Homo sapiens: one gene and its partners. The gene in region 2 interacts genetically with the main gene of each other region. Each region holds a gene or a part of one and is shown on either strand. Other genes may lie near its edges.

The links. A genetic interaction does not mean that the proteins touch.
Region 1: changes in ATR (region 2) and MCM5 are lethal when combined (synthetic lethality), as found in Homo sapiens cells (one large-scale study listed by BioGRID).
Region 3: changes in ATR (region 2) and SUPT16H are lethal when combined (synthetic lethality), as found in Homo sapiens cells (one large-scale study listed by BioGRID).
Region 4: changes in ATR (region 2) and PPIA are lethal when combined (synthetic lethality), as found in Homo sapiens cells (one large-scale study listed by BioGRID).

The regions. Positions count from the first base shown.
Region 1 is NC_000022.11:35,413,640-35,417,139, reverse strand, and holds part of MCM5 (DNA replication licensing factor MCM5), read right to left. Parts: intron 3,266-3,500; coding exon 3,154-3,265; intron 1,312-3,153; coding exon 1,168-1,311; intron 802-1,167; coding exon 736-801; intron 503-735; coding exon 326-502; intron 1-325. UniProt on the Homo sapiens protein: Acts as a component of the MCM2-7 complex (MCM complex) which is the replicative helicase essential for 'once per cell cycle' DNA replication initiation and elongation in eukaryotic cells.
Region 2 is NC_000003.12:142,449,734-142,453,233, forward strand, and holds part of ATR (serine/threonine-protein kinase ATR), read right to left. Parts: coding exon 3,395-3,500; coding exon of another isoform or gene 3,323-3,394; exon of another isoform or gene 870-3,322; coding exon of another isoform or gene 840-869; exon of another isoform or gene 826-839; intron 1-825. UniProt on the Homo sapiens protein: Serine/threonine protein kinase which activates checkpoint signaling upon genotoxic stresses such as ionizing radiation (IR), ultraviolet light (UV), or DNA replication stalling, thereby acting as a DNA damage sensor.
Region 3 is NC_000014.9:21,367,020-21,370,519, forward strand, and holds part of SUPT16H (FACT complex subunit SPT16), read right to left. Parts: intron 3,470-3,500; coding exon 3,317-3,469; intron 2,878-3,316; coding exon 2,731-2,877; intron 2,337-2,730; coding exon 2,185-2,336; intron 1,423-2,184; coding exon 1,250-1,422; intron 1-1,249. UniProt on the Homo sapiens protein: Component of the FACT complex, a general chromatin factor that acts to reorganize nucleosomes. The FACT complex is involved in multiple processes that require DNA as a template such as mRNA elongation, DNA replication and DNA repair.
Region 4 is NC_000007.14:44,795,374-44,799,480, forward strand, and holds the start of PPIA (peptidyl-prolyl cis-trans isomerase A), read left to right. Parts: upstream 1-1,307; 5' UTR 1,308-1,351; coding exon 1,352-1,420; intron 1,421-1,745; exon of another isoform or gene 1,746-2,248; intron 2,249-3,374; exon of another isoform or gene 3,375-3,531; intron 3,532-3,873; coding exon 3,874-3,904; intron 3,905-4,018; coding exon 4,019-4,107. UniProt on the Homo sapiens protein: Catalyzes the cis-trans isomerization of proline imidic peptide bonds in oligopeptides.

The DNA of each region.
Region 1 (3,500 bases), on a different chromosome or scaffold from region 2:
ACCAGAACTGAGGTTCTATTACTCATAACCCAATGTCAACTCCTCTGTTTCATATATAAGGGACTGAGGCCCAGGGAGAAACTGATTTAGCCCAAATCACACAGCTTATCACTCACGGCAGAGGCAGAGCAGGCCACAGGACTCCAGACCCTGCTTCAATCCTCTGCAGTCCACAACAACCGCCCTCTCACGTGCTCCCCAATTTCACAGCCTGACAGTCAGGACTTTGCCAGCCAAGGCCCTTGTTCTCCATTCTCCTTCCCACACAATCACAAGCCTGCCTGGAGGCAGGTCCCATGGCCACCAGCCCTGCCCCTGGACGTACCACATCCCTCTCCTCATTGTGCTCATCCTTGACGATGAAGATCATGTCGAAGCGCGACAAGATGGTGGGCATGAAGTCAATGTTGTCCTCCCCCTTCGTCTCATCCCAGCGGCCGAACACTGAGTTGGCAGCAGCCAGGACGGAGCAGCGGGAGTTCAGGGTGGTGGTGATCCCAGCCTAACAGGCGACAGACGACGAAAAGGGGGAGGAGATGGCAAAGATGCCTTCTTATATACACGTTTACACACACACACACACACACACACACACACACACACACACACACACACACACACACACACAGATTCTAGGCCTGGGCAAAGAGAACTTGGTCCCAATCAGGGCAGCCTGAGGACGGTTGGGCCACGCTGGGCTGCTGCAGGCTGGGCTCTCCATGGAGGGCCACTCACCTTGGCGATAGAGATGGTCTGCTGCTCCATGGCTTCGTGGATTGCCACACGGTCATCTTCTCGCATCTAAGTGGGGAAGAGAGAAATATCATCAGACCTACTGAAGTGAGGGAGCAGGGAGCAGTAGAAACAGGAAAACTAACAGCAGCCCTCACTCCTGAATACCAGCTCCACGCAAGGCCAATGGCAGCAACCAGGTCACCTCTAATCATGGGAACAACTGTGTGGGCTTGCCTTTCTTCTCCCCACTCTTCAGATATGGGAACTGAGGCTTGAAGAGGTTAAGCAGCTTCCCACAGTTACTAGAGTGACCGGCCCAGGGATTGAAAACATGTCTCCCAAGTCAGAGGTGATTTCTGCTGGCTGAGCACAGGAAGTCACATACCCTGGTGCCACCCACCTTTTGGCTACTACCCACCTCATCAGACTCACCTTGTCAAACTCGTCAATACAGACGACCCCACCATCGGCCAGGACCATGGCTCCGCCCTCCATGATGAAATTCCGGGACGAAGGGTCCCTCATCACCGAGGCTGTCAGTCCAGCTGCGCTGCTGCCTTTCCCAGACGTGTATACCTGGGGCAGTGGGGTGGTGTCAGGGCCCAATAACAACTCCATGCTTTGACCCCCATAAGACAAAAAGACCCACTGAGGTTGTGATTTGCCCAAGGTCACACATCAAAGCTGGCTGCAGGGTACAGAATAGGACTCAAGGCTCCAACTCAGTGCGTCTCCCTCTGGAAGGGGATGCTGCCCTGGGCCTCGGTGTGCCCAGATGTTCTCCCCGCTGAGGGCATCACATCCATGGCTCACCTAAGCCTCACCACAGCCCTGTGACACAGTCTTGTGAGGCCCAACTCACAGATGAGCAAACTGAGGCCCAGAGAAGAGGAGTTAGCCTCAGGGCTAGGATGAGGACTCCTGACTCCCAGGGAAAGCCTGCCCCCATCGTGAGTCCCTTGTCGTCTCTATATAGACCTACACGCCACATACTGCCATAGAGCCCCTGAAATTGGGAAAGTCCTAACTGAGATGTCCTTAATCGTGCAAAATACGCACGATTTCAAAGACTCAGAGCTCCTAAGAATGTAAAGTATCTCAATAATCTACATATCAAACAACATGTTGAAATGAGATTTTAGATATAGCGAGTTAAACAGAAGTAACTTCACCTGTTTTTCCTTTTTTCTTTCCCCTTCTTCCTTTTAAATTGAAACGGGGTCTTGCTATGTTGCCCAAGCTGGTCTCAAACTCCTGGGCTCAAGTGATCCTCCCACCTCAGCCTCCCAAGTAGCTGGGACTACAGGTATGCACACAACCGCACCCAGCTACTTTTTAATGTGGCTGTTAGACAATCTGAGAAGACATACATGGGTCGCATGTGCAGTTCACTATTTCTACTGGACAGTGCCAGTGTGGCAAATTTGGCACACTTCCTATCTATCCAAAGACCACCATCTCGCCCTATACAACCCCGCCACTCGGATCATGTCAGACCTTCTCTGGCTCTGATCCCCGCAGACCCATTCAACAACGCAGCAGAGGACCCAGCTCATCAGACACTTGGGTTCAATCACATCCTGCTCTAATGCTTACCAGCAGTGAGACCTGGGCCAAGACACTTACCCATTCTGTACCTGAGTTTTCTCACCCCTAACACAGGGGTAATAGTACCTGCCACACAGTTGAGGTGAAGACTAAGTAAATATATGCAAAGTACTTCAAGCAGTGTCTGGCCCTTCATTTTAGCTATTATTATTATTATTATTATTTATTATTATTATTTGAAACATGGTCTCACTCTGTCACCCAGGCTGGAGTGCAGTGGCACAATCTTGGCTCACTGCAACCTCCCCGTTCTGGGCTTAAGTGATCCTCCCACCTCAGCCTCCCAAGCAGCTGGGACCACAGGTGCATATCACGCCTGGCTAGTTATTTTGTATTTTTGGTAAAGACAGGGTTTCACCATGTTGTCCAGGCTGGTCTCAAACTCCTGAGCTCAAGCAATCCGCCCACCTCGGCCTCCCAAAGCGCTGGTATTACAGGGATGAACCACCATGCCCAGCCAGATTTTAGCTATTAATGATAACAATATCATTATTTAGCAAATGGATAAACTGACGCTCAGGGAGATTGGGTGACTTACTCAAAGCCCACAGCCAATTTCTGGCCAGGGTGAGACCCAAACCCCATCCTGACTCTCAGTACAGTGTACTCGCCCCCTGCCCCAAACCTACATACACCTGTTGGCTCCCTTCTTCCTCCCATCTCCTCGGCCATCCTGACCGCAGCCAAGAGAAAGGAGGAAGAGATTCCGGGTGAGCCAGCCCACCACAGGTGTCCTGAGGACCCAGAGGCCCTGCCCTGCAGCCTTCCTCCCTGCAAGCCAAGGTGGCAAAGGTATCCCAGGCCACTCACCCCAATGGGAGAACACTTCTCCACAAACTTCAGAAGCTGGGACTTGGCTGTCCCAGGGTCCCCTAGCATCAGCAGGTTGATGTCTCCTCGGCGAGTAAGTCCATCAGGGAGCCTGGGGGACGAAGGGTAGATGGACAAGGTGAGAATCCATGAGGGCATCGCATGTGACATCCAGTCACCAGATTGGTGGGCTGGCAGTTGACTCCCCCAACTATCATGGGCCTCAGAGTTGGTAAGAAGGTAGTGGCTGTGGCCTGAGACCCATGTTCCTACCCAGCTCTGTAGTTCCCAAACCATGGTAGGTCTTGCCTAGCAATGAGGACAGAGCTTGCCTCCCAGAAGAGGAG
Region 2 (3,500 bases):
AGGAAAAGAAGAAATTAAACAAATACAGTTAGCTTGTGATACTGATTTGGAGGCTCGCAAGATTGATTCAACATCAACTGCTTGGACATGTTTCTGGACTACGTGAAATACCAGGGAATTATTTACACATTACAATTCTAGAAAAATAATTTTTTAAATCTGCTTTGGAAGTGTTTAGGACTTAAACATTTCAATGAATATTCAAATAACAATGCTGTACTGCCTAATATTTACATTATGTTAGTACATGCAAATGGGTGTTCTAAGTGAGCTACTTGGAACTGTACAATTTCTTAAGCATATCTGAATGCAAAAGGAAGAATAACGTTATTAGAAGAATAATTCTCAGAGGTGGTGCTGGGTGGGCTGGTGGGCTGCGCTGCAGCCCACGAGCACAAAGAGGAGGGCCACGGGGTGGAGACTGTTGCTGTGCCATCTGCCATCGACTTTTCCGCCAAGAGCCTGGACTCCAAATATGACTTATGTTCCAGCAGAACTCCAGGTATTAAAATAACCCCTACAACAGCCAACTTTCCCTTTTGCAGTTGCAAACCAGCTGCCGCTTATTTCTTTGGTGAAGCACTTGAGCCATGTGCGTGAACCAAACCCAGTTCATTCAAGACAGTGTTTAAGTTACTTTGCCAGACCTTTATCAAAATGGGGCTGCTGTCTTCTTTCACTTGTGACAAGTTTAGCTCATTGAGACTACATCACCACAGAGCTATTACTCACTTAATGAGGTCCACTAAAGAGAGAGTTCATCAGGATCCTTGTGAGGCTATTTCTCATATCCAGAAAATCAGATCAAGGGAAGTACCCTTTGAAGCACAAACTTCACGTTACTTAAATGAATTTGAAGAACTTGCCATCTTAGGAAAAGGTGGATATGGAAGAGTATACAAGGTCAGGAATAAATTAGATGGTCAGTATTATGCAATTTAAAAAATCCTGATTAAGGGTGCAACAAAAACACATTACATGAAAGAACTACGGGGAATGAAGGTGCTGGCAGGTCTTCAGCACCCTAATATCATTCGTTATCACACTGCGTGGACAGAACATGTTCAAGTGGTCCAACCACAAGCAGACAGAGCTTCCGTTCAGTTGCCATTTCTGGAAGTGTTCTCCGACCAAGCAGACAGATACCAATACGGTGTTAAAAATGGTGAAAATAGCAGCTCACCCATTATCTTCGCGGAGCTCACCTCAGAAAAGAAAAACCCTTTGCAGAATCTGACACTCAAAATCAGAACAACAAGCTGTGAACTACACCATCAATTCCGTCTTAAGAGACACCAGTGAATATGAATCATCCCTGGAGCTCCAGGAAAATGGCCTGGCTGGTTTGTCTACCTGGTCAATTGTGAAACAGCCCCTGCTGCTCAGGTGTAATTCCCTCCTAGAGGAGAATTTCACATCCACTGAGGAATCTTCCAAAGAAAACTTCAACTTGTTGGGGATCGAGGTGCAGTACCACCTGATGCTGCACATCCAGATGCAGGTGTGCAAGCTCCAGCTGTGGGACTGGCTAGCTGAGAGAAACAAACAGGGCCAAGAGTGTGTGGGCAAGTTTGCCTGTCCTTATGGCCAGTGTTGCAACAAAAAATTTTCAAGATTTAGTGGAAGGTGTGTTTTACATACATAACATGGGTATTGTAAACAGAGATCTGAAGCCTAGAAATATTTTTCTTCATGGCCCTGATCAGCAAGTAAAAATAGGAGACTTTGGTCTGGCTTGCCCAGACATCTTACAAAAGAACACAGACTGGACCCATAGAAACAGAAAGAGAACACCAACACCTATATCCAGAGTGGGCACTTGTCTGTATGCTTCATCCCAGCAGTTGGAAGGATCTGAGTATGATGCCAAGGGTCTCACTCTGTTGCCCAGGCTGGAGTGCAGTGGTGTCATCATAGCTCACAGCAGCCTCCAACTCCTGGGGTCAAGTGATCCTCCCACCTCAGCCTCCCAAGTAGCTGGGACTACAGGAGTGTGCCACTGAGCCCAGCTAATTAAAAAAAAACAAAAACTATTTGTAGAGACCAGGGCTGGCTTTGTCCAGTTAGATATGTATATAGCTTGAGTGTGATCCTGCTAGAGCTCTTTCAGCTGTTTAGAACAGAAATGGAGCGAGCAGAAGTTTTAACAGGTTCAAGAACTGGTCAGATATTGGAATCCCTCAGTAAAAGGTATCCAGTACAAGCCAAGTATATCTATCACTTAACGAAAAGGAACATGTCCCAGAGACCATCTGCTCTTCAACTGCTACAGAGTGAATTTTTCCACAATTCTGGAAATATTAATCTCACCCTACAGATGAAGATAATAGAGCAAGAAAAAGAAATTTTTCTTTTAGTTCTTTTAGAAGAACTAAAGAAGCAGCTAAACCTTCTTTCTCAAGACAAAGGGTTAAGGATGACATGAAGGATGGGGGCGTACAGGTCTAGCCTTCCTCGAGCTATATCAGTAGGATGAAAGTGGACTTAAACTCTTTAGGTAGTTAACTGGAATGTAAATTTTTAATCTTTATTAGCATATAGTTGGTATAATTCATTGTATTTAGTAAGCCTGTACAAGACTTATTAAAGATGTAAGAGTGCCCCCCACCAAAAAAAACGAATCCTCAATCTATTCTAACTTATTAAAAACAACTATCTGAGCTAGGCACAGTGGCTTATGCCTATAATCCCTGCATTTTGGGATGCTGAGGTGGGTGGATCACTTGAAGCCAGGGGTTCAAGACCAGCCTGGCCAACATGGTGAAACCCATCTCTACTAAAAATATAATAATTAGCCAGCTGTGGTGGTGCACGCTTATAATCCCAGCTACTTGGGAGGCTAAGGCAGGAGAACTGCTTGAACCCAGGAGGCAGAGGTTGCCGTGAGCCAAGATCGTGCCACTGTACTCCAGCCTGGATGACAGAGCGAGACTCTGTCTCAAAAACAACAACCACCACCACCACCACAACAACAACAACAAAACTATCTGCAAACTTTGCAGCTTCAACTAAGTAAGAAGTGAATTGCTGCATTTGTTAACATAGCTTGTGACATACTGGTATCATGATATTAAAGCTCAGACCTGTTGTTCTGTAAGTTCAGGCAATTTGTACTATAGTTTTTCCTACTGTATCTCATAACTGTGAATTGTCTATGGTTAAACAAGTGTGCCATGAACTTTTATTATACAAATGCGAATACTGTTAACATTACTGACAATAAAGAAAACTTATGGCATTGTGATACTAGAGAACTAGATTTCAGAGTAATCAATAGTCACTAACAGTATTTCCAAGCAGTTCTCATGCATAGAGATGAGAACTATAGCTGCATATCAAGTTCATTTGTAGAGATGAGGACTACAGCCCATATCAAGCTATACCTTCTACTAACCTTTTCATTGACAACTTCTCCAGTTTCATTCAGTGGCGCTTTGGAATGCCCTTTCACTGGTTTACTCCATTCCACAAGAGGATCATGTAGAAAAGTCTTTAAGACA
Region 3 (3,500 bases), on a different chromosome or scaffold from region 2:
AAGCTCCACCTCCCGGATTCACGCCTTTCTCCTGCGTCAGCTTCCCGAGTAGCTGAGACTACAGGTGCCTGCCACCACGCCCGGCTAATTTTTTTGTATTTTTAGTAGATGGGGTTTCGCCGTGTTAGCCAGGATGGTCCTGACCTCATGATCCGCCTACCTTGGCCTCCCAGAGTGCCGGGATCACAGGCTTGAGCCACCATACCCGGCCCCGATCCCATTCTTAATCATACTATTTGAGAATCACTGATCTAGGAGGACAGTGGTCTTAATAAAATACTTTAAGAGTTGATAAATGGTATCACATTAAAGTTATTATACATTTTCAAAAACAGATCCTTGTGGTGGGCCTGTTCCATTTATCACTAAATGGGTGAATTATTGTTATGAGGGCTGTGGCCTTAATTTTTCAGGATCTAGACTATGAATGGGTATGTCAAGCTAAAAAGTAGTCTAGATATGGTGGCCTCAGAGGGATCTTTATCTTCATTAAACTATCTATGGCTATGATTTCCAATAGGACTTCTTAAGACCGACTTAGAGATAATGTGGAAGAATGGTGTCTGGAAGCTCAGTATCCTTCGTATCGTTTTGATGTAGGATTAACAGTATATATCCTGTAGGTAGAGATACTAGTTCTCAGAACTTTCTATAACTAAGGAATAGTAATAAGGCCAAGGTATTTTGTGATGATCTGGACACAGAGGGCCTAACAAGTCAGAGAGGTTTCTATAAACATCAATGTAAACCACAATGATCACTCATGCTTGAAAGAAATGCAGATTCAAGACCTAGATGCTAGGATGATTCAACATTTGTAAATCTTATTCTGTTTTTAATATGAGAGCCTCAGAGACATAAACATAACACTAATGACATTTCTTTTTTGAGAGAAGGTCTCAACTCTATTGCCCAGGCTGGAGTGCAGTGGCGCAATCATAGCTCACTGCCGAGGTATAATCGCAACTCACTGCAGCCTTGACCATTCAGGCTCAAGTGATCCTCCTCAACTTCAGTCTGAGTAGCTGGGACCACAGGCGTGCACCACTATGCCCAACTAATTGTTTCATTTTTAATTTCTTGTAGAGATATGGGGGCCTCATTGCCCAGGCTGGTCTTGAACTCCTGGATTCAAGTGATCCTCCTGCCTCGGCCTCCCAGTGTAGGGATTACAGGTGTGACCCACAGCTCCCGGCCAATGACATTTTTGTTACACAACTTTCAAACCTCCTTTTCTAAGGCACCTCACCATGTCTTAATTCCTTCAGCAGCTCCTCTTGAAGCTGGAGCAAAAAGTTATAATTTTCTTGAACTTCTTGAGAAGGATCAACCATCAAAGTGCGAACAAGGTTGGAGCAGTAAGACTTGAAGCGAATACCCATGGCACAAGTGATAGCCCCAAAGTGCATATGATTCTTGTCACTAGAGACCAACAAAGAAAGAAAACATTTCATTACCAAAACTAGCAAAGTCCTTGGTATCAATGGGACACGGTATCAATAATCATTACTTTTCCCTGCCATATCCCAAAGCTGTGGCTGAATAAGGACCTAAACTTTTTTGTGTTTTGTTTTAAATAAACTAACCAGTTTATAAAGGCTCTGGAGTAAAAGTCAGTGACCAAAACTTTTAGGATAAAAATTCAGTGAGTAAGTGAGTACTGGATTACAAAAATGCAAATGATATCCTGAATTGTATCCATTATAGTCTAATTGTGGGGTTGTGAGGAGTCACTTATCCATTAGTCCTCTATGAATTGTGAGTTGTAATTAGTCTTAAGTTAAATGAGCCAGACATAAAAGGACAAATACTGAATGTTCTCACTTATATGTGGGAACTAAAAAATTGGATTACATGGAGATAGGGAAAAAATAGATAACAGAGACTGGTAAGGGTAAGTGTGTAGGGGGGCAGGCGAGGATGAAAAGAAGTGGGTTAAAAGGTACAAACATAAAGTAAGATAGAAGGAATAAATTCAATGTTTGACAGCAGAGTAGGGTGACTATACTTAACAAAAATGTATTGCACCTGGGTGATGGACACCCAAGATAATGACTTGGTAACACTATACATTATATACTTGTAGCCAAATTTCAGTGTACCCCACAAATTTGTACAGATTTAACAAAAAGAAAAAATAGGCTAAAGTCAAAATGCTATATTATGAAGTCTTCATATACTTACCTCACCACACTGAACTTGAGATTATAGTTGCCACCACTCTGAATGATAGGAGGGTAACACATTTCCACAGTAGAAGGGTCTGCCCCAGCAAGGTATTTTTTCTCTTCAATGGCCTTTTCCACAGACTCAGCCAGTTTGCTGTGTCGAACTTTCTGTAAGAGCATCCAGAAATAAAGTAACACTTACTAGAGGGTAGCAAAGCGGGGTGTGTGGACACTATGATTTGAAGACAAAATGTATCCTTGTATAAGTCTTAGGAAATGATTTATGCGCCAGGTAATATATTGGTATGCAGGCAAAACACATTTGGAGAACAATATGTAGGACTTACAGCTATTCCTATGATTCTCAAGTAAAATAATGGGTTACCTCAAGAAAACATAACGCAGGCTTACCATTATTTTGAAAGGGAGATGATGTAATTACCACCAACTTAAGTGTCAGTCTTAATTTCAAAGGAAGCTGAAGAACACACCAACAGATTTGCATGGTAGACTTATTACTGCTTCATTAAAACAGTAAAAAGACCCTCTCATCTCCATTTACCTCATCTGCATCAACTATTTCCATGACTCTTTCCTTGAAGAATTTGTTGAAGACTTCAGAAGTGATGCTGGCTGCTTTCTTCATTAGGTTGAGCTCCCCATCCTCCTTTACAGCGATGGTATATGCCACAACTGCACTGATATCTATCTGCAGTCAAAGTGACAAGAGTTTCTAACATGCAAGTACAGAATTACAAAATAAATGCATCTCTCCAATTTGAATATTACCAGTGATATTTCTGTTATTTAGCAAACTATCACTGGTTTGCAGAATATTCAAACATTCTCTTCTTGAACTGAATAAACATTTGAAATAGCTCTTTGCCAGGTCATTGTGTGTACTACAAGAGGTGTTAAGCTAATGTACCACTTAAAATGTAAACTGCCCTCTAGACGTTTTTTGTAAAGGCAGATAGAAGAAAGGCAGGGAAAAAAAATAAAACTGGCACACTGCTCAGCCAAAGGGGATAAAATGTAAACAAACATACAGTTTTCCCAAAACAAACGTCCTGCACTATCTGTTATGGAAGCCCATCACATTTCTGTCTTCTCAACTCTTGATTTGCTATTTCCAGTAGTATTCTTACTTTGTCAAAGCCTTCTTTGTTGAGGCAGTCATTCCAGCTCTTCATGAACTCTCCAGGGAATTTGTCTTTGCTGAACACTCCAATCTTCTTGCCATTCTTGCTTTCTTTAATGGCTTCAATCATTTTGTCAAAGCTACTCTTATTACTTTCATTCTGTCAGTGTCATAGGGAAGAAAAGACACAT
Region 4 (4,107 bases), on a different chromosome or scaffold from region 2:
CCTCGGCCTCCCAAAGTGCTGGAATTACAGGCGTGATCCACCGCACCCGGCCTATTTTTTGAGAGAGGGTCACACTCTGTCGTCCCGGCTGGAATGCAGTGATGCGATCACCGCCCACTACAGCCTCGACCTCCGGGCTCAAGCAATCCTCCCCGCCCAGCCTCCTGAGTAGCGAGCGCCTCGACGCCCAGCTAATTTTTATTTTTATTTATTTTTTTGTAGAGACGGCGTCTCTCTAAGATGCCCAGGCTGGTGGCCGGTGTCGAACTCCTAAGATGAAGCGATCCTCCCCGGCCTTGGCCTCCGCGCCTCCTAAAGCGCCAGGTATGAGCCACCGCGCCTGGCCTACAAGTGCATTTTAATTAAAGTATTATTAATGTCTTTGCCTGAAGAAATTCGCTTTTAAATTGTGACTTATCTTTCACCCAAAAATCAAAGCACAATTCAGCCCCGAGGCGGGGGCGGTAGGAGCTGGGCGGGGCGGGGGCAGGGAAAGACCAGGAGCAGAGATTCAAAAAGAGTAAGAGGGCAAAATGTGCATAATGCATCTTCACAGGTAAGAGCCTGGCCAGGCTCCTGTTTTAATGGCTTCCTCCTGAAGAAGATTCAAGCAGAGTGTAAGATATTTTCGGAAAGTAGAGCATTTTGAAAGCATTTCATAATCTCTCAAAACCGGAGACTGCTCCTGTCCCACCTCGTTAGAGAAAACAGCGATGCTCAAAGGCAACCTCCTTCCTGACATTGCCTGGTAGGACGCGACGTGGTGTTTGCCCGCGCGGAATGCGGACGCAAGGCTGCTCCTAGGTCTCGGGGACGCGCCATCCCCATTTCCGCTCGCGGAGGCGTAGGGTCCGGGCGCGGGACCCCAGTCGACCTTGACTGGCGGCGCGACCTTGAGGCCTGCGTTCGCCTCAGTTGCCCCCTCTGTGCAATGGGGAGACGCGCCTCATCGCTTGACAACGGCCGAAGAGCCGCCGCGCTTCCGTCTCCCGCGTGCGCGCGCCATGCTGCCCACCCCCGTTCCGCACTGACCCTCCCCCGTGCCCCGCGTCCCGTACTGCCGCCCCGCCCCGAGTCCCATGCCGCAGCCACCGCGACGGAGCCCGCAGGCGGGAACCTGCCTCCGCGCGTTAGCGCGCACGCGCGCCTCATGTGTCGTCCCCATCAGCGCCGGCTTCCGTCTATAGGCCAGATGCACTGTCACTCTGGCGAAGTCGCAGACCCGATTGGCCGGGACGGAGGCGCGAGACCGGGTTGCGGGCGGGGCCGAACGTGGTATAAAAGGGGCGGGAGGCCAGGCTCGTGCCGTTTTGCAGACGCCACCGCCGAGGAAAACCGTGTACTATTAGCCATGGTCAACCCCACCGTGTTCTTCGACATTGCCGTCGACGGCGAGCCCTTGGGCCGCGTCTCCTTTGAGGTCGGGCGGGCGGCGGCGTGCGGGAATGGGGCCCAGAAAGTGGGCCGGGGTCGGGGTGGGTGGTAGCGCCCCAAAGGCCCGGGCGCGGGGCGACCCTGCTTGAGGGGCGAGCGCGGGCGGGCTGCGGCGCCATTTCCTGACGAGGGGCCATTTTGGGAGGTCCGCGAGTCGCGGGGAGGAGGCCGGGACGGCGGCGGACAAAGGCAGGCGGGGCGGCTGCGAGGCCGTTGGGGGAGGGGGCCCGCGTCCGCCCGCCCGCCTCATGTGGCCGCGCCCTGTCCTGTCCGACGCACGTGCTCGGCGGCCGCGCTCAGGTCCGCGCCTTGAGAGTCGTTGGGCTCCGCCCTAGCTTGGCCTGGGCGCCGCAGACCGGAGCCAGAAGCACGCTCGCGGGGGCTTGCGACCGCCTTCCTGGGAAGCTGTCCCCTGGCAGGCATGGGTGCTTTACATCCTGAGCTGGGAAGCTGTTTGCTTGAGGGTTTTTCTCAAGGATCGAGGCGCGGTGTGAGCCCGTCCATGCTCGGTCCTGTAGATCCCGGGAGGCCATGTTATAAAAGGAGACTTGCTGGGATGTGACGGGTTGCCACTTGAAATATCTTCCATTTGGATAAAGTAGGAATATTTATACATGTGCCCCAAACGTCCCTCCGTGTCCCCCACCCCCAAGCGGAAATGTGAAAATGGGCCTTGCCTTTGCTGGTGCCCAAGGACCGCCTTCCACTGCAGTGACGGCGCTGGCGGGGGAGGCGCTCTTGAGCCCCTCCCGATTGTCCCTCTGCCTAGCAAGCAAGTTGCGACTGGCCACAAGGCAGGCCTCTTCCGACCAAGGTGGATTACCAGTGATTACCTAATTAGTTTTGAGAGCGTTAAATGAGTTCTTAAAGATCAGTTGTAATTATAGCATAGTATCTAAACTTGGCGCGTGTCTTCAAAGTTAAATATTGAGTACGATTCCGTTCCAGTTAACATGGATAGACCTTAGGGAGTAGCGAAATAGGATGTTAGTGGTTTTATTCCTTTAAATCACATCTCAAAAGGCCACCAATGGCTAGTTTGGGATCTTATTCCGAAAATAGATTGATCCTCATGCAGTCTTCGTGAGGACAGAGCGATTTCCTTGTTGCCTACCCTGTCCATAGTGCCTGGCACATAGGCACTGAAACACTGCATGTTAATCCACACCCCACCCCACCTATGAGTGTAGTCAAAGCTGGTAAGTGACAAGGGCTTTCGTGGAAACTTGGCCTGACCTAATGTTGGGCATCAGGTTACCCAAAGAGCTTCAGGGAAATGAGAAAGGACTTGCAGGTCTTGATGAGAATGGAGGGGTAACTGCCAATGAGGGCTTTGGCTTTAGCGAAAGTCTGAAAGGGAAGCCATAGGAACTTAAACGTACCGACTATAAAGCTCTGAGAAAAGCTGATGTTTTAGAAAGACCATACATTCTAGGTACAAATACCTAAAAACTAAAAAATAAGTACGTTGGCCAGGCGGGCGGATCACGAAGTCAGGAGATTGAGACCGTCCTGGCCAACATGGTGAAACCCCACCTCTATTAAAAATACAAAAATTAGCTGGGCGTGGTGGCGCTTGCCTGTAATCTCAGCTACTCTAGAGGCTGAGGCAGGAGAATCGCTTGAACCCCGGAGGCGGAGGCTGCAGTGAGCCGAGATCGTGCCACTGCACTCCAGCCTGGTGACAGTGAGACTCTTGTCTCAAAAAAAAAAAAGTACATTGCTATAAGAGAAGTGCACACGGATACTAGTAGTTAATTCAGTCACATCTGTGAAATAGCTTATAAAATGCTACTTTTAAACAAGCTGTTTTTATGAAAGGGCTTGTAAATGTTTATGGTATTTAAGCTACCTCTCTAGCCATAACGTATTATACATTCAAGAAAGGTTCAAAACCAGATATACTAGAAACCAATCTTTATTTTTTACCCCACTACTAGGTAAGGGGCCTGGATACCAAGAAGTGACTGCTCATCTAATCCATAAAGCTATGTTAACAGATTGGAGGTAGTAGCATTTTCATTACAAGTGACTAAAAGAACAGCTGTTTACCCCTGATCGTGCAGCAGTGCTTGCTGTTCCTTAGAATTTTGCCTTGTAAGTTCTAGCTCAAGTTGGGGGGTGGTGATAGACATTTAAGAAGCCATATATCTTTTCAGAAGTAGGTGTGATGTACTAAAAGTTTGAGACACTTTCTAGAAGTCTCACTATTTAAGTTATGACTAGTATTGGATTTTTGGCATGTCTTTGGGTTTCATGTTTCTTAACCCAACTGCCTGCAGGGCCTTATGGCTGTCAGGAGCAGTTCTTGGGAATTAAAGTAATTACTGAAGAAGTATTCTAGTGAGAAAATGAATTTATGACTCAGAAGCCCCTAAAGACATGGGTACTAAGCAACAAAATAAGCAGATGTTAATTAACTGTAATTTTCTCTTACAGCTGTTTGCAGACAAGGTCCCAAAGACAGCAGGTTGGTCCATTTTCTAAGTTTAACAAAGATGTTCCAATTGTGACAGTTTGTGTGTGTGTGTGTATATATATATTTTTATGTATGTATATATGTGTTTAATTTTTTTTTAAACAGAAAATTTTCGTGCTCTGAGCACTGGAGAGAAAGGATTTGGTTATAAGGGTTCCTGCTTTCACAGAATTATTCCAGGGTTTATGTGTCAG